Linked DNA regions of Homo sapiens. The protein of the gene in region 1 purifies or fractionates together with the protein of each later gene. This does not show direct contact. Each region holds a gene or a part of one and is shown in the gene's direction. Other genes may lie near its edges.

What was found.
Region 2: the proteins of DUSP29 (region 1) and RCC2 purify together in Homo sapiens (affinity purification with mass spectrometry, with the first as the bait; one large-scale study listed by BioGRID). This does not show direct contact.
Region 3: the proteins of DUSP29 (region 1) and GSR purify together in Homo sapiens (affinity purification with mass spectrometry, with the first as the bait; one large-scale study listed by BioGRID). This does not show direct contact.

What each region holds. Positions count from the first base shown.
Region 1 is NC_000010.11:75,042,567-75,046,219, reverse strand, and holds part of DUSP29 (dual specificity phosphatase 29), read left to right. Parts: intron 1-1,397; coding exon of another isoform or gene 1,398-1,536; exon of another isoform or gene 1,537-2,171; intron 2,172-2,202; coding exon 2,203-2,423; intron 2,424-3,653. UniProt on the Homo sapiens protein: Dual specificity phosphatase able to dephosphorylate phosphotyrosine, phosphoserine and phosphothreonine residues within the same substrate, with a preference for phosphotyrosine as a substrate. Involved in the modulation of intracellular signaling cascades.
Region 2 is NC_000001.11:17,429,598-17,433,250, reverse strand, and holds part of RCC2 (protein RCC2), read left to right. Parts: intron 1-3,653. UniProt on the Homo sapiens protein: Multifunctional protein that may affect its functions by regulating the activity of small GTPases, such as RAC1 and RALA. Required for normal progress through the cell cycle, both during interphase and during mitosis.
Region 3 is NC_000008.11:30,680,075-30,682,867, reverse strand, and holds part of GSR (glutathione reductase, mitochondrial isoform 1 precursor), read left to right. Parts: intron 1-806; coding exon 807-938; intron 939-1,830; coding exon 1,831-1,964; intron 1,965-2,793. UniProt on the Homo sapiens protein: Catalyzes the reduction of glutathione disulfide (GSSG) to reduced glutathione (GSH). Constitutes the major mechanism to maintain a high GSH:GSSG ratio in the cytosol.

The sequences.
Region 1 (3,653 bases):
GAGCTCTCTTTGACTCCCAAACACAGATCCTAGCATCCAGGATCCCCACACATCAGCCAGATTGATTTTTCTTTTTCTTTCTTTCTTTTTTCTTTTCTTTTTTTTTTAAAGACAGAGTCTCTGCTGCTCAGACTGAGTGCAGTGGTGCAATCACAGCTCACTGCAGCCTCAACCTCCCTGAGCTCAGGTGATCCTCCCACTTCAGCCTCCCCAGTAGCTGGGACTACAGGCACATGCCAGCATGCCCGGCTAATTTTTTTCCCTTATATCTTGTAGAGATGGGGTTTCATGATGTTGCCCAGGCTGGTCTTGAACTCCTGGTCTCAGGCCACCCTCCCGCTTTGGCCTCCCCAAAGTGCTAGGATTACAGGTGTGAGCCACCTTGTCTGGCCAGATTGATCTTTAAAAAAGTAAACAATGCTTACTTCTTTCTTAAAATCCTCTAGCAGACTTCCACCACACTTGCAATAATACTCCTTCCTATGGCGGGCAGGGCCCACCATGCTCCAGCCCCTCTACCTTTCCAAACTCCTATTCCCCTTGCCACTTCAGCCACACTGGCTTCCTTTCTGTTCTCAGCAGTTGTTCCCTCTGCCTGGATGAAACGCTTTCTCTCCAACTCTTCCTCAGCCTTCTCATCCCTCAGTCTTGGCTTAAACACCACCTCCCCACAGTGGCCTTTCCTGACCGCCTTGCCTGAAGCAGGACCACAGTCATTTTGTATCATGTCATGAAGTTTTAGGTCCTTCGGATAGCTCTCACTGCTATCTAAAATTATCTTTGTTTATTTCCTACCCCCATTAGTATCTGACCTTCCTGAGGGAACTTCACTAACCTGTTCTTTTGTTTTTTGAGACAGTTTCACTCTGTCACCCAGGCTGGAGTGCAGTGGCGTGGTCTCAGCTCACGACAACCTCCACTTCCTGGGTTCAAGCGATTCTTGTGCCTCAGCCTCCCAAGTAGCTGGGACTGCAGGCATGCGCCATCACACCTGGCTGTTTTTTGTTTTTTCTTTTTGTATTATTAGTAGAGACAGGGTTTCGCCACGTTGACCAGGCTGGTCTCGAACTCCTGACCTCATGTGATTTGCCTGCCTCGGCTTCCGAAAGTGCTGGGATTATAGGCGTGAGCCATTGTGCTCGGCCCCTGTTCATTTCTTTACCATCAGCACCCAGCACAGTGCCTGGCACATAATAGATTGCAAATAATTATTTGGGGATGGATAATTGATTACAGGAAATAGACAATGCTTCCTGAAAGGCCTTCGTTGTCTCCAGCCTCCATACCTCAGGTGGTGCTGTTTCCTTGGCTTGGCCCGCGCTTGCCTCCTTCTTCCCCTCCATCACCAAATGTTGACACTTGTAGTGACACAGGCCTCTCCCTGCCCCACCCCACAGGCAGGAAGAACCCGTGTTTCCTCTGGCAGCCCATCTCCACTCCGGCCCCACCATGCTGCCTTCTCATCGAGTCATATTTCAGAGCCACCTACTTCAAGAGGACTTTACTGTTCCTGGAAATTCTTGCCTAGAAAGATAAAGCTGTAGCCCATTAAATAACTTCACTGCTGGCTTCAAGAACTTCCCTGCAATCAATTCAAACAACAGATGGCTCAAAAAGCCCTCCTTCTCAGAACAATGCTCTGCCCAGCTGGGCAACAGCTCCCCAAAGCAACACTTTCCCGTTCACATCGTGCCAACGTGAATTTGTGAACTTTGCCCAATCCCAATCCAATCCTCTTATGGAAGGCCTTGCTTTAAACCATTCAGTTGAGCGTCCATCTCCAAACCCTAAAAACATCCAGCAGGTTCAGAGCAGAGGTTGGGAGAAGGCAGCCCTGATGAACAGGTTATTCTGGAGGGCTTTCAGGCGATTTGGCAGGTCCAGATCTGCGACCACCGTAGAGGCCAGCACCAGGTTCCGCTGTGTATACTGAATGATGAAAGAACTAATGGACGAACGAATAGCTCAGCTTGCCTACCCCAGCCTCCACCCTGTCCTTTCTTGAGACAGCCGAGCCAGAATCACAAAACAGTGCAGGTGGCCTAGGGGACCGGGTAAGAGCAGAGCTTTGGGACTTCATTTGCAATAACTAGTCCTCATTCTGGAACTGGAATCCACAGCGGAAAGCGTGGGTGGCCCCTGAGTTTCCCGGACCCGGGGCAGGGCGCCGCGCGCCCACAGATTTCTCTCCCCTGCGCCCAGGGCGACGGCGCTGGACCGCTATAGGCTGCAGAAGGCGGGGTTCACGCACGTGCTGAACGCGGCCCACGGCCGCTGGAACGTGGACACTGGGCCCGACTACTACCGCGACATGGACATCCAGTACCACGGCGTGGAGGCCGACGACCTGCCCACCTTCGACCTCAGTGTCTTCTTCTACCCGGCGGCAGCCTTCATCGACAGAGCGCTAAGCGACGACCACAGTAAGAGACCCGCGGCCCCGCCCCGATCGGCCCCGCCCCGCCCCGCCCCGACTCGCCCCGCCCGTAGCTTAGGCCCCGCCCCTTCCCCGCCCCACTAAGGCTCCGCCCCTAGCCTAGGCTCCGCCCTTAGCCCAAGGTTTCCCCGTCTGAGGCCCAGGCCGGAAGCGGGATGTGCGCGTGCGAAATCTTTGTCGCAAAGCTGGGCCACTGGGGCTGCTTGTGGCCGAGGGTAAAGGTCCGAGCCCCTGGAAGCTGTGAAGGTTTAAGGACCTGCACCACCCAGCGTGCTGCTGGTGGGGTTCGGGCCTTGATTGCAGCTCTGGGGAATGGAAATAGGGCGTAAGAATAAAAGGCCTTTTGGTCGGAGTCTTTGCTAAAGAACATTTGCCATCCTTCAAAAGGCGGAGGCGGTCTGGGAGCTCTCAAAGCTGGGACTGCGGCCGGAGACACTAATTGTGCCTGGGCCTGAACCCAACTAGTAGCCAAGGGCTTTGATGCCAGAAAACCCTCAGGGAGCTGACTTGAGTGGGAATCCATGGAGAGACCTTAAATTCTCCTGCCCACCAACCAAGTTACACTCCCCAGTTACACTCAGCCTCGTGAGGCCTCCAGTAGAAAGCTGACAAGCTGGGCTTTACTGGCACGCTGTATTTGAGGTATAATTTGGGTTTTGCACCCCCAGCGTCCAAGTTTTCCCAGTGTTAATTATCCAGCTTTTAAATCACAGTGCTAGTCTTTGTGCTCAGAATGCACTGTTGGCTACCCTAATCCAGCAAAGGCTACAAGGCTATTTTGGAGAGAAGGGCACAGCTTAGGGACGCATCGGGGGTAAGACAATATACAGTTATTGCTGCAGGGTGTACTTCAGTGGAATTCCACAGAGGCCAGAGGGACTTCAGCTCCCTAATCTGTGCTCTGACTTCAGCCCAATGTGTCACACACCCCTTTGTGGAGCCATCACATAATTCAGGGTATCTGGTTACTGAAAGCCTTTCTTGCCACAAGAGGTTGTGATTACAAGGCTCAGTGACTGACCAAATAGTCTGCTGCAGGAACTTGCAACCTGGGGCTGGGCCTAGGCCAGGTCTGCTGGACAATATCAGACCTTAATGGACATCCCAAGGTGGCCCTGGCCCCACAGCCAACCATAGCCACCAACAATTTGTCATTATTTTGGCTCAGAAAGCAATGTCACAATGAAAAAAAACCCTTAGAGCTAACATGCCTGTA
Region 2 (3,653 bases), on another chromosome or scaffold:
GAAAGCAGCTTAGAGCAAACAATTATGTAAATAATAACGAAATACACTAACCTCCATCTAATGTGTGAGGAAATAGGATCCATGACGTAAAAACTTGAATAACAGTTAATGTCCTTCATAGGAATCTGACCACCGTCACTGGAGTAGACTCAGTTTACCGGGGTTTTTCACACATACACACGTATATATGTATATGTATACACACGTATGTATATGTGTGTGTGTGTGTATATATATGTGTGTGTGAGTGTATATATATATTTTTTTCTTTTTCTTTTTCTTTTTCTTTTTTTAAGATGGAGTCTCGCTCTTTCGCCCAGTCTGGAGTGCAGTGGCGCGATCTCGGCTCACTGCAAGCCCCGCCTCCCGGGTTCATGCCCTTCTCCTGTCTCAGCCTCCCGAGTAGCCGGGACTACAGGCGTGAGCCACCATGCCCGGCCCACAAATACATTTTTATTGGCGTGGTTGGGTTTGCCTATAAATGCTTAGCTAGCTTGATGGATCAGTCTTCATGAGCCCTTGACCAAATGTCCAGGTCACCCAGGAAACTCCCTCCCCAAGGCCAAGGCCACTGCGGTTAAGCTCTGGCTGTCTGAACTTGCCCCTGAACCATGCCCTCTGGCCTGATGGAGCTGAGGCTTCTGGTGTGGCCTCAGCACTGTGAAGTTTTGCTGCAGTGGTTGCATCTCAGTGTAGGGTGGTTTGACTTCAATGGTTCATACTGAGCACAGGTGCCCATGAACCTCCGCCTGCCTGGTCTGCAGTTGCTGGCATTCCAGGGCTCTTTTCTAGGCTTGCCCTCTGGCCTGGGAGCTTGGTCTCCAGTGCCTTAGCACCCTTCCTGGGTCTCTACTGCCCCCTCCATGCCAACTTGGTAGGCTTGGGCAGAGGACCCAGAGGCCTCTCCTTCCACAGGGACTTCAACAGAAGCCATTGAATATAGACCTGTAGCATATTCCAGCCAGGCCTGCCAGTTAAACAAAGAAGGGCAGATAACCAGGGGAAGCTAGGCTCCAATTCAAGTAACCTGAGTTGTGGGTGCTGCAGGGGCTGGGCCACCCTCTGATTAAGGTCATTTTCTAAATAATTTAAATGAACCAAAGTTGTTCTCCCTTTCCGTGTTGTTTCACTTCCCTCCCCCCAACTTTTTTTTTCTCTTTTTGAGACAGAGTTTCGCTCTTGTTGCCCAGGCTGGAGTGCAATGGTGTGATCTCGGCTCGCTGCAACCTCTGCCTCCTGGGTTCAAGCGATTCTCTTGCCTCAGCTTCCCAAGTAGCTGGGATTACAGACACCCGGCTAATTTTTTGTATTTTTAGTAGAGACAGGGTTTCACCATGTTGGCCAGGCTGGTCTCAAACTCCTGACCGCAGGTGATCCACCCACTTTGGCCTCCCAAAGTGCTGGGATGACGGGCCATGAGCTACCGCGGCTGGCCTCACTTCCCCTTTTCATGAGGACTGCAGGATGCATTCCTGTAGATTGACCATCTTTTTCCTGTTACATAATGTGGTGGAGTGGGCAAGCGTGACGGAACCTATATCTTGGGGGACGCCCTAATCAGGTTTGGGTCGTGTAAAGGTTCCTATTGAAGTGGAAATCATCCGTCATGAAGATGTGTAATCTTAGAAATGCGTGAGCCGTACTGCCAAAGCATACCCATGGGGTGATCACACTGTAGAGGTTAGAATGATTGGGCCTGGAGCTGCCCTTTTTTCTTTTTCTTTCTTTCTTTTTTTTTTTTTTTTTTTTTTGAGACAGGGCTGGCTTTGTCACCATGGTTGGTCTTGAACTCCTGACCTCAGGTGATCCGCCTGCTTCAGCCTCCCAAAGTGCTGAGATGACAGGCGTGAGCCACCACACCCAGCCCACATATATATATATATATATATATTTTTTTTTTTTTTTTTTTTTTTTTTTGAGATGGAGTCTTGCTCAGTCGCCCAGGCTGGAGTGCAGTGGTGCGATCTTGGCTCACTGCAAGCTCCGCCTCCTGGGTTCACACCAATCTCCTGCCTCAGCCTCCCGAGTAGCTGGGACTACAGGTGCCGGTCACCATGCCCGGCTAATTTTTTTTGTATTTTTAGTAGAGATGGGGTTTCACCGTGCTAGCCAGGATGGTCTCTATCTCCTGACCTCGTGATCTGCTTGCCTCAGCGTCCCAAAGTGCTGGGATTACAGGTGTGAGCCACCGCGCCTGGCCAACAAATACATTTTTATTGGCATGGTTGGGAACTTTCATCGGCGTTATTTTATTGGCATTTTATCGGCACTTTGGGAGGCCAAGGTGGGTGGATCACCTGCGGTCAGGAATTTGAGACCAGCCTGGCCAACATAGTGAAACCCTGTCTCTACTAAAAACACACAAAATTAGCTGAGTGTCTGTAATCCCAGCTACTTGGGAGGCTGAGGCAAGAGAATCGTTTGAACCCGGGAGGCAGAGGTTGCAGCAAGCCGAGATCACGCCACTGCACTCCAGCCTGGGCAGCAACACTGGGAGTGCAATGGTGCAATCTCAGCTTACTGCAACCTCCGCCTCCCGGGTTCAAGGGATTCTTCTACCTCAGCCTCTGGAGTAGCTGGGACGACAGGCGGATGCCACCACGCCTGGCTAATTTTTTTGTATTTTTAGTAGAGACGGGGTTTTACCATATTGGCCAGGCTGGTCTTGAACTCCTGACCTCGTGATTCACCCGCCTCAGCCTCCCAAAGTGCTGGGATTACAGGCGTGAGCCACTGTGCCTGGCCCCCTTTTTTTTTTTTTTGAGACAAGGCCTGGCTATGTCACCTAAGCTGGAGAGCAGGTGTGATCTTGGCTCACTGCAGTCTCCAGCTCCTCAGCTCAAGCAATCCTCCCACCTCAGCCTCCCAAGTAACTGGGACCACAGGCTCATTTTTCTATTTTCTGTAGAGACAAGGTTTTGCCATGTTGCCCAGCCTGGTCTCCAAGCTCAAGCAATCTGCCCGCCTCGGCCTTCCAAAGTGCTGGGATTACAGGCGTGAGCCATTGCGCCTTGCCAGACTTTTTTCCTGAAGCCTTCCAAGAACAATTCTGTAAACTGAAGGAAACCCCTTTCCTTTTCACGTCCAGGAAAGATGTGTAAGAGCGGAAAGTGATAGCAGTGAATGCTTCCCTTGCCAGTGTGGACTGAGTGAGGAGTTCAGAATTGAGTCTTCCACTAACAACCTACTTGAAAAAGTATATTTTGACATTTAAGGAAGCAAAGTGCTGAGAATATTATGAGTGCCACCCAGAATTGAACAATGGCCTTTTTAAATGGCGTAGATTTTCGTTGACAGTATGAGAGTTGGTGGCCCTGATGACTTTGTGTTGAGAGACTGAGGATGAACACTGAAGTATGCTGGCTGCTGTGACAGCTTGTTCCTTGAGAGCCGGGCCCCTGGGAGGTCCTGTTTCACTCACCATTGGCTCCCGGGCTCATGGACAGCGGCATGAGGGTGCCATCAAAGGCCGCCTGATTCAGACCCCTGCATACCCACCAAAGCTGTGTTCTGCCTGGTCTCCCTTCAGTGGAGAAATCGAACCTTGTTCTCTACTGTTTTCTTCCTGAGTCCCCATGGAAAGGCTCTCGGCAGAGTGGGCAGCAGAAGTGATGTGAGGCTCCTAAGGTTTGAGGTCGCAGGCCGTGCTTGCC
Region 3 (2,793 bases), on another chromosome or scaffold:
AACAAGAGCGAGACTCTGTCTAAAAAAAAAAAATAATAATATAATAATAATGATAATAATAATAAAGATTCTAGGCGCAGTGGCTCATGCCTGTAATTCCAGCACTTTAGGGTTATAAAATAGAACTAAAGATGCTGAAAACTAATATAGCTTGTTCCATAAATATTGTATTAAAAAGCTAATATCTTCATTAAGTAGATTAACTGCCAGGTAAGTGAGAACTTGTGAATGTGTCTTTTGGGAGTGGGGCCAGACAGGTTGAGCATCCCTTATCTGAAATGCTTGGGACCAGAAGTGTTTTCAGTTTCAGATTTTGGAATATTTGCATATATATAATGAGATATTTTGCAGATGCGACCCAAGTCGAAACACGGAATTCATTTGTTTTACATACACCTTATACACATAGTTGGTAGGTAACTTTATACGATATTTTAAATGTGTGCATGAGGCATACTTTTGTCTGCGTTTTTGACTGCAACCCTTCACATGAGGTCAGGTGTGGAATTTTCTGCTTGTGGCATCATGGTGCTCCAACATTTTGGATTTTGGATTTTGAATTTCTGGATTAGGGATGCTCAACCTGTAATAGAATGTATAGGATTCTCATAAGCCAATCATTTTGAGTTGTTCGCTGAGGCATGACATATCTTCGCTGTATTAAACTATCTAGATAGTGTAATGAACAATGGTGTGAAACTGTCAGAACTAGGGCATTAAGGTAGATGGATAAATGGCTAGTGGAACAATTTAGCTATGTTAAAACAGACAGTAAGATAAACACTGATTTTAAAATATCTCCATAGTTGCAATAGCTGCTGGCCGAAAACTTGCCCATCGACTTTTTGAATATAAGGAAGATTCCAAATTAGATTATAACAACATCCCAACTGTGGTCTTCAGCCACCCCCCTATTGGGACAGTGGGACTCACGGAAGGTAGGTATTTAAAAACTGAAGGTCATTTGTGGTTTCCTTCCTCTTTCCCCTGCCCCCAACTTTAAATTAGGTCTCTGTCAGCTGATGAAACCTATCTCAGCCCCAGATTACATTGCTTTTTGGTTACTCTCTTGTCACAGTTCCAGTTTTCTCCCCTGCTACTACTTTGAGTGTACAGTATCTTTCCTTCACACCACCCTATCTCTTTGATCTTTTTTTTTTAGCTTTTTTATTTGAACTAATTTTAAATTTAAAGAAAAGCTCTAAAAATAATACAAAGGACTCCTCTCTAACCTTAATATTTTTGCTTTTTTATTTTTTCACTCTACACACACACATGTCTATCTTTCCTAAGAACTGGCCCTTACATAAACCGAGTATCATTTTCTTTTTTTTTTTCTTTTTGAGACAAGCTCTCCCACTGTCACCCAGGCTGGAGTGCAGTGGCACGATCTCTGCTCACTGCAACCTCCGCCTCTGGGTTCAAGCAATTCTTCTGCCTCAGCCTCCCGAATAGCTGGGACTACCAGGCCTGCACCACCACCATGCCTGGCTAATTTTTTGTAGAGATGGGGTTTCACTGTGTTGCCCAGGCTGGTCTCAATCTCCTGGGCTCAAGCGATCCACCTGCCTCTGCCTCTCAAAGTGCAGGGATTACAGGCATGAGCCACTGTGCCTGGCCTTTCTTTTCATCTAGAGGCAGAATTCCTCAGCCCTTCTTTTGTCTTATATGACACTGACATTTATTTTGTAGAATACTTCTCATTTTGGCGTGGTTTGATATTTCCTCGTGGTTTGATTGAGGTTATGTATTTCTGGTCATCTCCCTCTTTGATAGTTCAGTGTAATTGTTTAGTTTTCTGATAGATGCTTTTTTTAATGTGCATTGTAGATGAAGCCATTCATAAATATGGAATAGAAAATGTGAAGACCTATTCAACGAGCTTTACCCCGATGTATCACGCAGTTACCAAAAGGAAAACAAAATGTGTGATGAAAATGGTCTGTGCTAACAAGGAAGAAAAGGTAAGGAAAAATCCAGCAAACTAAATAGTGCCTTGCAAAATGGACAGGGATGGCAGTATTTTGCAGGGGTGGAAAGGAGGGAGACCAAGCAGTTGAGCCTTCTGATTCAACTGGACAGGCCCACTTTGATCTGTCTTACCTGCATTTTGGGGTTCTTCATAATATTTCATCTAGAAGGAGGTTCCACTCCTTTTAAAAAATAAAGACGATGCCAGGCGTGGTGGCTCACACCTGTAATCCCAGCACGCTGGGAGGCCGAGGCAGGCATATCACCTGAGGTCAGGAGTTTGAGACTAGCCTGACCAACGTGGTGAAACCCTGTCTCTACTAAAAACACAAAAATTAGCCAGGCATGATGGTGCGTGCTTGTAATCCCAGCTACTCGGGAGGCTGAGGCAGGAGAATCACTTGAACCTGGGAGGCGGAGGTTGCAGTGAGCCAAGATCATGCTACTGCCCTCCAGCCTGGGAGACAAAGCGAGACTCCATCTCAAAGCAAAAAAAAAAAAAAAAAAAAAAAAAACAGGAGAGGCCAGGGCCAGGCGCTGTGGCTCACGCCTATAATCCTAACACTTTGGGAGGCCAAGGTAGGCGGATTGCCTGAGCTCAGGAGTTTGAGAGTAGCTTGGGCAGCATGGTGAAACCCCATCTCTACTAAAAATACAAAAATTGGCCGGGCATGGTGGTGCCATGAACATTCCTCAGTAGCCTATGATTTCTGGATATTGAATCATGAAGGCTCCTACTTAGTTATTTCTTCATGCCAGTTATCATTCATTCAGTTGATAAACATTATTTGTCATTCTTCTCAAGACTAAGAACTGCTATAT